Linked DNA regions of Homo sapiens: region 2 is linked to region 1. The links come from fine-mapping of genetic effects on gene expression. A gene starts in region 1. The other region holds a variant in brackets. All regions are shown on one strand. Distances are from middle to middle.

Region 1 (5,375 bases):
CTCAGATTGCCTAGGTTCTCTCACAATCCATGTAGCCTCCCTTTTGTACTATCTGACTTCTCCAAGTATGACTGCTTTACTATTTTATATTTAGATGGTTAATATCCTCAATTGCAGGGCCTTTAAAAATTTTCCTTTTAAAATTTGTCTTTAACAAACAAATACTAAAAGTACCAACAAGTTCAACCAGGAAAACACCATTTCCAGTTCCAATATCAAGCACTGAAGCATCCAGTGGAATCTTGTGTTTCTGCATCCACCTTATTAGTCGATTCATACTCTCTTCTCCAAACCTGTTAGAGAGAATCAGTCAAATAACTGAGGGATACAGAGCAAAAGTCACCACTATATTCCATTTAAGCTATTTATACCATATGCTCAAACTCTTATTTGAAAGTGAAAACATCTGTGACTGCTTCAGCTTTGTCTCTACTGTAATTTAGGAGAAACCACCTCCAGGAATACAACAGAATAGACAAGGTCAGTATGTTATTTACTAACATTTCTCTATATCAGCATTAACAGTTGTATGTGTTGGTGTCTCAGAATTTTATTGTTTATTGACAAAGGACAACTATAGGGTGAAATGCTGTCATCAAACGTAAATGTGAGATATTAAAAGAGGGCTCACACCCATTCTCCCAACACTTTGGAAGGCCACGGTGGGAGGACTGCTTGAGGCCAGGAGTTCGAGACCACCCTGGGTAACACAGTGAGACCCTGTCTCTACAAAAAAGAAAATTTGCTGGGCATGATGGCATGCAGCTATAGTCCCAGCTACCCAGGAGGCTGTGGCGGGAGGATCACCTGGGCCCAGGAGGTCCAGGATGTAACGAGTTATGATGATCATGCCACTGTACTCCAGCCTGGATGACAGAATGACACCCCACCTCTCTAAAAAAAAAAAAAAAGTAAAAAATTAAAAAAGAATAAAAGAAGAGACATACTTTAAATCTACCCACTAAAGCCAGACTTAATCCAGGGTTCCCAGGATTTTTAGGCTTTCTTTGGGTATAAGCACTTGAATATATGCATTTTTTTTTTTGAGATGGAGTCTCACTCTGTCGCCCAGGATGGAGTGCAGTGGCGCGATCTCAGCTCACTGCAATCTCCGCCTCCCAGGTTCAAATGATTCCCCTGCCTCGGCCTCCCAAGTAGCTGGGACTACAGGCGCGCGCCACCATGCCTGGCTAATTTTTTGTCTAATTTTCGTAGAGACAGGGTTTCACCATGTCGGCCAGGATGGTCTCTATCTCCTGACCTCGTGATCTGCCTGCCTCGGCCTCCCAAAGTGCTGGGATTACAGGCGTAAGCCACCGCGCCCGGCGAATATATACGTATTTTTTTAAACACACACACATATACATATAATCTTCTAGATTATAACTTGATTCTTTTCCTAACTCACCAGATTTCACCTGTATCTCCATATTCTCGGAAAGTTTGCAGTTCTCTCTCATAGACAGCATCCCAACTATGTAAACAATGAAATGCAAAGCAAGACTCTTGAATTAAACTGTATTATGAATTAAATGTATGTTTCTAATACATTACAGAGCTATTTATGACAGAGGTTTAAACATCACTAGTGTTATTAATAAATACACATAGTTCAATCTTTTAACGTCCTTGAGTTAAAAGAAGGAAATACATGGGCAAGCAGAATACGTTTATACTGTACATGTAAAGCATTTAGGACAATATCTGATGCACAACAATAAGTTTTAGCCTAAAAAAACACAAAGACATTTGTCCACGTATCCCTAAGTCCCTGACCCAAGTTCAAAACTTGATGAAACAAGCACATCTGGTCTCAAGTGTGCAGGCACACAGTCTCTTTCCTGTGCTATTTGTCTCTGCCTATTCCAGTCTTCTAGCCCTCCGTTTAAATTTTCTCTGGACGCTTTTCTTCTTTTTTTGAGACGGAGTCACGCTCTGTCACCAGGCTGGAGTGCAGTGGCGCGATCTCGGCTCACTGCAACCTCCGCCTCCCGGGTTCAAGCGATTCTCCTGCCTCAGCCTCCCGAGTAGCTGGGACTACAGGTGTGCGCCACCACACCCCGCTAATTTTTGTATTTTTAGTAGAGACGGGGTTTCACCATGTTGGTCAGGCTGGTCTCGATCTCCTGACCTTGTGCTCCGCCCGCCTCGGCCTCCCAAAGTGCTGGGATTACAGGCGTAAGCCACCACGCACCCGGCCCTCTGAATCCTTTTCATTTGCCGTCTCTTTTCCTACAATGATTCTCTAGAATCCCTGCTCCCTCTCATCCCGCCAATTTACCTCTCCCCAACTGTTCCCTGCAGCCATTCATCCACCCACATTAATTCATTTAATAATTCCTGAGCGTCTGTTTGAGGTCAGATCGCTTTCTTTCACCCCAAGATCCCCCACTATCTCCCCGCTCCCGCCTCGGGTCATCCGCTATTCCCACCCCACTTCCAGCTCCCACATCCCTCCCCTCCTACTCAGCCTTTTCGGCTCCCAGGCCCAGCACTTCTCCCTCGGTCTCTCACTCTCGCCGACCAGCCCTATTCGCCAGCCTCGCCCTCTCCCCCTTTCCCCCAAGCCTGGCCCTCAGGTTCGAGACTCCCAAAAGGCCTCCCAGGAGCCAAAGCCTGTCCCGCACCCACAAGCCCCTTGGGCTCCAATCCCTTGAAACGTCGGTTAACCGCGTAGGGCGACCCCTAGGGATTCCACTCTTTGAAATCCCCGTAAGCCCCCCGCCAGGTGGCCCTGCTCCCGTCACGCCCCCGAGGGTCTCCCTGTCCCTGAGCCCCGGGTCTCCACCCCGCCGTCCCCTTCTCGGGGCCCAGGCAGGGCGGCACGGCTCATCCTCCCCTGCCCAGCGTCACACTCACTGCTCGCGGGTCCCCAGCGCCGACGGGACGAAACCGTCCTCCCCGGGACTGCCCTTGTCCGACCGCGCCGCCACCGCAGCGCCACCGCCGCCGTCAGCGCCCGAGCTCATTTCGCTCCACGTCCTGGACGGCCGTTGGGGCCGCCATAGAGACGGGGCACAGGCAGAGCGGACGAGCGGACCGGCGCCTCTAGGCGGCGGGAGGCCGCCCTCTCGACTGCTCCAGCCCCCGCGCTGGGGCTGGGATGGGGACGCGACGCCCTCTGCTCTACCCCCGGCTCCCTGCGCCGGCGGGGACCGTGCGCTCTCCCCACAGCGTTAGTGGCATCCCCTTCGTCGAGGTCCAAGAGCGGCTGTATTTGGGGACTGCTGTTCGTGAGGGACCATTAGAGGTATTGCATTTTGGAAAACGGCTGGCTTCCGCACCGTGGACACCTAAAGCCGACGCCGCTCTACCCAAACGCAGAAATCACTTCACCTCTCCACTGCGTGCGCCTGTCTGCGAAGCGGGTGCGAGCGTCCATCCAGTTATTTGGCTCCTTGGCAAGAGGCCAACTTCGTTTCTGGCTAAGATTCTGACTTGAAAACCGCGTTCTGGCCTCTTGTGACTTGATGTCACCGGTAGACGTGGAAATTTATGTCCAGGGAAAGGAATGCCCTGCAACTCTCCACAATACGCCAAACACGGGGATCAGTGTGTTGTGGAAGAAAGACTGCTAAGTGAGAGGATGCCCGGATAAGCCTCAGCTCTGCCTCGACCCAGGCACCTGGCCTTGCTTAAGTTTGTTTTGTTTTGTTTTGTTTTGTTTTGTTTTTTGAGACGAAGTTTCGCTCTTGTCGCCCAGGCTGGAGTGCAATGCAATGGCGCGATCTCGGCTCACCGCAACCTCCGCCTCCCGGGTTCAAGCGATTCTCCTGCCTCAACTTCCCGAGTAACTGGATTACAGGCGGGCGCCACCACGCCAGGCTAATTTTGTTTTGTTTTGTTTTTTAGACGTAGTCTCGCTCTGTCGCCCAGGCTGGAGTGCAGTGGCTCGATCTCGGCTCGCTGCAAGCTCCGCCTCCCGGGCTCACGCCATTCTCCTGCCTAAGCCTCCGGAGTAGCTGGGACTACAGGCGCCCACCACCACGCCCGGATAATTTTTTGTATTTTTTTTAGTGGAGACGGTGTTTCACCGTGTTAGCCAGGATGGTCTCGATCTCCTGACCTCGTGATCCACCCGCCTCGGCCTCCCAAAGTGCTGGGATTACAGGCGTGAGCCACCGCGCCCGGCCTAATTTTGTATTTTTAGTAGAGACGGGGTTCCTTCATGTTGGTCAGGCTGGTCTCGAAGTCCCGACCTCAAGTGATCCTCCCGCCTCAGCCTCCCAAAGTGCAGGGATTACAGGCGTGAGCCACCGCGCCTGGCCTCTTGTCTAAGTCTTAACCTCTGTGTGTTTCCTCCCTGTACCATGTCAGAACTAGACGGTGTCTTTGTTCCACAAAACTGCTCCCAACCCGCGAACCGGAGATTGCATCTGCCTCTGGGTCTGAGTGCCATTGGTAGATCTGCAGTATAATACAAGAGATCTTATGGGCCAAAGTCTGGGGTATTTTCTGTAGTAGCTGTGAAATACTGCTGGTCCTATGTCCTAGGCAAGGCCCTCAAATGCCCCTAGCGAGACTGCCTTCCAACCAAAAGGAATTGTTTGCTAGGCCACGTTTCTGTTGTCTTGGCAGACAGAAGCCCAGTAACAAGTCCCTAAAGATAAAATAGCATCAGAAATCCTTCCTAGGATCGGATGCGCATCTCCTATAGATGCTGTTCTGAGATCTTCAGGCAGCCACTAGTGATAGGGTAAGATAAAAGGCAGACAGGAGGCCGGACACGGTGGCTCACGCCTGTAATCCCAGCACTTTGGGAGGCCAAGGCAGGCAGATCACGAGGTCAGGAGATAGAGACCATCCTGGCCAAAATGGTGAAATCCTGTCTCTACTAAAATACAAAAAATTAGCCAGGCATGGTGGCGCGCGCCTGTAGTCCCAGCTACTTGGGAGGCTGAGGCAGGGGAATCATTTGAACCTGGGAGGCGGAGATTGCAGTGAGCCGAGATTGCGCCACTGCACTCCAGCCTGGCAACAGAGTGAGACTCTGTCTCCAATAATAAAAAAAAAAAAAGGCAGATGGAAATCCTTGTGCGTAATGATTAAAGTAAAGGCCGGGCGCAGTGGCTCAAGCCTGTAATCCCAGCACTTTGGGAGGCCGAGGCAGGCGGATCACCTGAGGTCAGGAGTTCGAGACCAGTCTGGCCAACATGGCGAAACCCCATCTCTACTAAAAAGACAAAAATTAGCCAGGCATGGTGGCAGTCGCCTGTAATCCCAGTTACTCAGAAGGCTGAGGCACGAGAATTGTTTGAACCAGGGAGGCGAAGGTTGCAGTGAGCCAAGACTGCACCACTGCACTCCAGCCTGGGCGACAGAGTGAAACTTTGTCTCAAAAATAAATAAATAAATAAAATAAAATAAAATTCAAG
Region 2 (5,375 bases), 59 kb after region 1:
TGTGCCACCATGACTGGCTAATTTAAAAAAGAAAAATTTTGGCCGGGTGTGGTGGCTCACGCCTGTAATCCCAGCACTTTGGGAGGCCGAGGTGGGTGGATCACCTGAAGTCAGGAGTTCGAGACCAGCCTGGCCAACATGGTGAAACCTTGTCTCTACTAAAACTACAAAAGTTAGCCGGGCATGCTGGTGGGCACCTGTAATCCCAGCTACTCGGGAGGCTGAGTCAGGGAGAGTTGCTTGAACCCAGGAGGTGGAGGTTGCAGTGAGCTGAGATGGTGCCACTGCACTTCAGCCTGGGGGAGAGACCCTGTTTTGTAAAAACGGGGGTCTTGGGGCCAGGCGCAGTGGCTCACGCCTGTTATCCCAGCACTTTGGGAGGCCGAGGCGGGCGGATCACGAGATCAGGAGTTCGAGACCAGCCTGACCAACATGGTGAAACCCCGTCTCTACTAAAAATAGAAAAATTAGCAGGGTGTGGTGGCGTGCGCCTGCAATCCCAACTACTCGGGAGGAGGATGGCTTGAACCTGGGAGGCAGAGGTTGTGGTGAGCCGAGATCGAGCCATTGCACTCCAACCTGGGTGACAGAGCAAGACTCCGTCTCGAAAACAAACAAACAAACAAAGAAAAAAACGAGGTCTCAATTTGTTGCCCAGGTTGCCCTTGAACTCCTGGCCTCAAGCGATCCACCCCCCCTTCCGATCCACCGCCACCTCTCAAAGTTCTGGCATTACAGGTGTGAGTCACTGCACCTGGCCCAAGTTTTAAATTTCATTCAATTTTAATTCATTTAAATCTAGATTTAAGAAGCTGCATGCCATATGGCTAATGGTTACCAAATTGGATGACATAGGATGCTGACCCCTCATTTCACAAAGAGGGAACAACCGAGGCAAGAGTAGCATGATGATGGGCCCAAGGTCACAAAGCCACTGAAAGACCCAGAGCCCAGGCCTCCTGCCTCCTCTTACAGCTGTGTCTGCTCCAGACCATGACGGGCTTGGAGAATGTCAGCACAGGAAAGGATAGTAGAGATCCTCTCCGGCAACATTTGTCCCAGATTGAAATAAACAAAGGACAGGCTGGAGCATTTGCTCTGGGCCCCACGGGGCTTGGCATCCTGCTCAGGAAGCGTGGCTGTCCTCAGCCCAGCCTGGGACGCTCTTCACAGTGTCCTGGCACCTTGGATGCAGACAGGCCAGAGCGGGAAGCATAAGGGGAGCTCGCCTGGGGCAGCTGCAATCTCGGTGACCCTTGTCCTGACAAGCACACTCCTCCCCCTGCTCAGGACGTGACAGGGAAGGCTGCATCAAGCAGAAGCCAACCTCATTTCTGCAGCTCATCCACACCTTCCACTTGCTCAGTCCTCGGCCTGCCTGCTCAGAGGTACCCAGGTGGAGGATCAAATTAATCCCCTTCTTCATCCGGAGGCTGGCATTCAAATCTCCACCCACCCAGGGAGAGTGGGCACAGAGTTATGGGCGAGGCTGAGTGACATCCAAGCCCTCAGGAGAAAGAGGATGGCGAGAGAGAGCCCTGGCACCTTGCTCTAGCCATCTGCTGCCGACCCGGCCTGAGTGCACTGTGCCTGAGCAGACGCTGGGAGAGGGTGCTCCAGGCACCTGGAGAGCAGGTGGGACTCATGTGCAGCCCCGTTTTGTTAGCATCTTCTCTCCCTCCTTCACTCTTTCTCTCTGTTCTCCAACCCTCCCTCTCTCCCCACCCCTTCACTCCCCTTCTCTTTTGTTCGAGTAAATTTTTATCAAGGTGTAACATATATACAAAAAAGGACACAAATCATAAATGTATAGCTTGTCAGATTTTCACAAAGTGAACATACCTATGTGACTGGCACGAACATTAAGAAACAAAACATTGGCCGGGCTTGGTGGCTCATTCCTGTAGGCCCAACACTTTGGGAGGCTGAGGCAGGTGGATCACCTGAGGTCAGGAGTTGGAGACCAGCCTGACCAACATGGCGAAACCCCGTCTCTACTAAAAATACAAAAATTAGTATTTTTGTATTTGGGTGTGGTGGTGCGTGCCTGTAATCCCAGCTGCTTGGGAGGCTGAGGCATGAGAATTGCTGGAACCCGGAGATGGAGGTTGCAGTGAGTCGAGATCACAGCACTTTGGGAGGCTGAGGCAGGCAGATCACCTGAGGTCAGGAGATCAAGACCATCCTGACCAACATGGTGAAACCCCATCTCTACTAAAATACAAAAAAAAAAAAAATATTAGCCGGGCGTGGTGGTGCATGCCTGTAGTCCCAGCTACTTGGGAGGCTGAGGCAGGGGAATTGCTTGAACCTGGGAGGCGGAGGTTGGAGTGAGGCCAGATCACACCACTGCACTCCAGCCTGGCGACAGAGCAGCCGGGCGGGGTGGAAAGCGCCTGTAATCCTAGCTACTCTGGAGGTTGAGGTAGGAGAATTGCTTGAACCCGGGGTGCAGAGGTTGCAGTGAGCCGAGATGGCACCACTGCACTCCAGCCTGGGCAACAGAATGAGGCTCTGTCTCAAACCAAAACAAAATAAAACAACATGCCTGTGCCTCACAATTTCCCTTCATGTCCCCTCTTGGTTGTTACCCTCACTCTGTTAACCTCTATCAACATAAATTGATTTTGTCTGGGCCGGGCACGGTGGCTCATGCCTGTAATCCCAGCACTTTGGGAGGCCAAGGTAGGCAGATCACCTGAGGTCGGGAGTTGGAGACCAGCTTGACCAACATGGAGAAACCATGTCTCTACTAAAAATGCAAAATTAGCTGGGCGTTGTGGCACATGCCTGTAATCCCAGCTACTCATGAGGCTGAGGCAGAAGAATCGCTTGAACCCAGGAGGCGGAGGTTGTGGTTAGCTGAGATTGTGCCATTGCACTCCAGCCTGGGCAACAAGAGCGAAACTCTATCTCAAAAAAAAAAAAAAATGATTTTGTTTGGTTATAGACTTTCCTACTTCTTTCACCCAACATGATGCTTGTATGATTCATTCAGGTTGTTGAGTACCCAATGGTCAACTGTTGATGGACATTTGAGACTTTTGAAAGGTGGGTGCAAATAATGCAGGTGTGAACATTCTCATCATGTGTTTTGGTAAATGTATGTCAGATGTCTGCATATATTTGGGGTATATAGATAGCTAAGAGTGAATTGCTGGTCAGAAAGGCTGCA[A/G]ATGTTCAGCTTTAGTAGAAGCCAACAGTTTCCCAAAGTTGTCCCACCAAGTCACACTCCCACAGCAAAGTATGGGCATTCCAGCAACCCCATCTTCAACCACATTTGGTATTGCCAGTTTAAAACATTTTAGCCATTCTGCTTAGCCTGCAGATCACTGTGATTTGCAGTTGCATTGCCCCAGAGACTGATGAGCTTATTTGGTCCTGCACCTGTTTTTTTGTCATGTTGTCTGCCTTTTTCTTATTGATTTGCAGACTTCATATATATTCCAGATACGAGGTTTAAGATATATATGCATGTGAATGTGTATATATATATGTGTGTGTTGGTATACATACATATGTATACATACCAACTATCTTCTTTCTCCCATTTAGTAGCTTGTCTTTTTACTCTTTTTTTTTTGAAACAGAGGGTCTTGCTCTGTCACCCAGGCTGGAGTGCAGTGGTGCAATCATAGCTTACTGCAGCCTCCACCTCCCAGGCTCAAGTGATTCTCTCGTGCAGCTGGGACTGCAGGCTCACACCACCACTCCCGGCTAATTTTTTTAAATTTTCAGTAGAGGCAAGGTTGTGCTATGTTGCCCAGGCTGTTCTCGAATTCCTGGACTCAAGCAATCTTTCTACCTCAGCCTCCTGAAGGTTGAAATTACATGTGTGAGCCACCTCTCCAGGCCATTTTACTCTCTTAAAGATGATTTTTGCTTAACAGAAATTCACCATTACAATCTAATATAATTTACCAATTGTTTTCCTTTATGGCTGTTTTTGTATCTTGTTTAATAAATCTTTACCTATCCAAGGCCATGAAACTTTGAGTTTGTTTTGTTTGTTTTTTTCAAGAAGATTTATTGTTTTAACTTTTCACATTTTTATTTTTGTATATGGTATGAAGGAATGGTCAAATTTTTTTTATGTTTTGTAATCTAAAGGCCAACGTTTACTTTTTCCCTATGAATATTCAGACAGTCTGGGCAACATGGGGAAACCCCATCCCTACAAATACAAAAAAAATTAGGCAGGCACGGTGGCATGCACCTGTAGTCCCAGCTACTTGGGAGGTGGAGGTGGGAGGAATGCTTGAGCCCAGGAGGACGAGGCTGCAGTGTGCTCTGATTGTGCCTATGAATAGCCACTGCACTCCAGCCTAGGTGACAGAGTGAGACCCTCTCTCAAAACAAAAGAATGTCTGGATGATTCAGCACCAGTTGCTAAAAATTACCGCTTCCCACTGCCCTGAATTATTACATTTGTCATAAATCAAATCAAACACAGATCTGTTTCTGAGCTTTGTTTTTTTTTTTTTTTTTTTTTTTGAGACAGAGTCTTCCTCTGTCCCCCAGGCTGGAGTGCAGTGGCCCAATCTCGGTTCACTGCAACCCCCACCTCCTGGGTTCAAGCTATTCTCATGCCTCAGCCTCTTGAGTAGCTGGGATTACAGGCGCCTGCCACCACGCCCAGCTAATGTTTGTATTTTAGTAGAGACGGGGTTTCACCATGTTGGCAGGCTGGTCTCAAACTGCTGACCTCAGGTGATCTGCCTGCCTCAGCCTCCCAAAGTGCTGGGATTACAGGTGTGAGCCACTGCACCTAGCCGAGGCCTATTTATCTTAATGTAGGCTAGCAATAACTGTTAATGTCTGGTAGTATGAATCCTGGAGCTTTGCTCTTGGTCACTCTTGGCTGTTTGCATTTCTATATATGTGTCAGAATTAGCTTGTCAACTTCTGCATGCCCCCAAATAATCTTGCTGAGATTTTTAAAATATTGCATTGGATCTATAGACTAGTTGGGAAGAATTGACATCTTTACGATATTGAGTCTTCTAATCCATGAACTAGCTGTCCATGTGTGTGTGTGCCTGTGTGTGTTTTGAGATGAAGTCTCGCTCTTGTTCCCCAGGCTGGAGTGCAGTGGTGCGATCTCGGCTCACTGCAACCTCCGCCTCCCGGGTTCAAGCGATTCTCCTGCCTCAGCCTCCAAAGTAGCTGGAATTACAGGCGCCTGCCACCACGCCCAGTTAATTTTGTATTTTTAGTAGAGATGCCATTGCACTCCAGCCTGGGCAACAAGAGTGAAACTCCGTCTCAAAAAACAAACAAACAAACAAAAAGAAGTATTAGTCTCAAACTTGATCTCAGAGAGAAAGCTTTCAATATTTCACATTCAGTAAGGTGATTCCTGACCAGGTGCGGTG

Direction of the effects. Alleles are on the strand shown, and positions count from the first base shown. SD is a standard deviation of normalised expression in the study named.
For the expression in prefrontal cortex of the gene that starts at base 3,023 in region 1, A is the high allele of the variant in region 2 and G is the other (small effect, 0.39 SD a copy in GTEx).

The links. PIP is the estimated chance that this variant, and not a neighbour inherited with it, causes the effect. A credible set is the group of variants that fine-mapping cannot tell apart.
Region 2: its variant is the best candidate, but not a certain one, in a credible set for the expression of EEF1AKMT2 in prefrontal cortex (GTEx, PIP 0.67).

Annotation. Positions count from the first base shown.
Region 1 is chr10:124,788,865-124,794,239 of GRCh38, forward strand. EEF1AKMT2 (EEF1A lysine methyltransferase 2) reads right to left here and starts at 3,023. Exons shown (of 7, transcript NM_212554.4): 1 at 2,860-3,023; 2 at 1,409-1,474; 3 at 179-293. The coding sequence starts at 2,969. RefSeq lists enhancers at 2,975-3,699, 3,327-3,636, 3,700-4,422 and a silencer at 3,137-3,196.
Region 2 is chr10:124,848,095-124,853,469 of GRCh38, forward strand. No RefSeq gene overlaps it. Among named protein-coding and RNA genes, the nearest start is that of ABRAXAS2, 49 kb to the left of the region's middle. The variant A/G (reference allele first, on the strand shown) is at 3,176.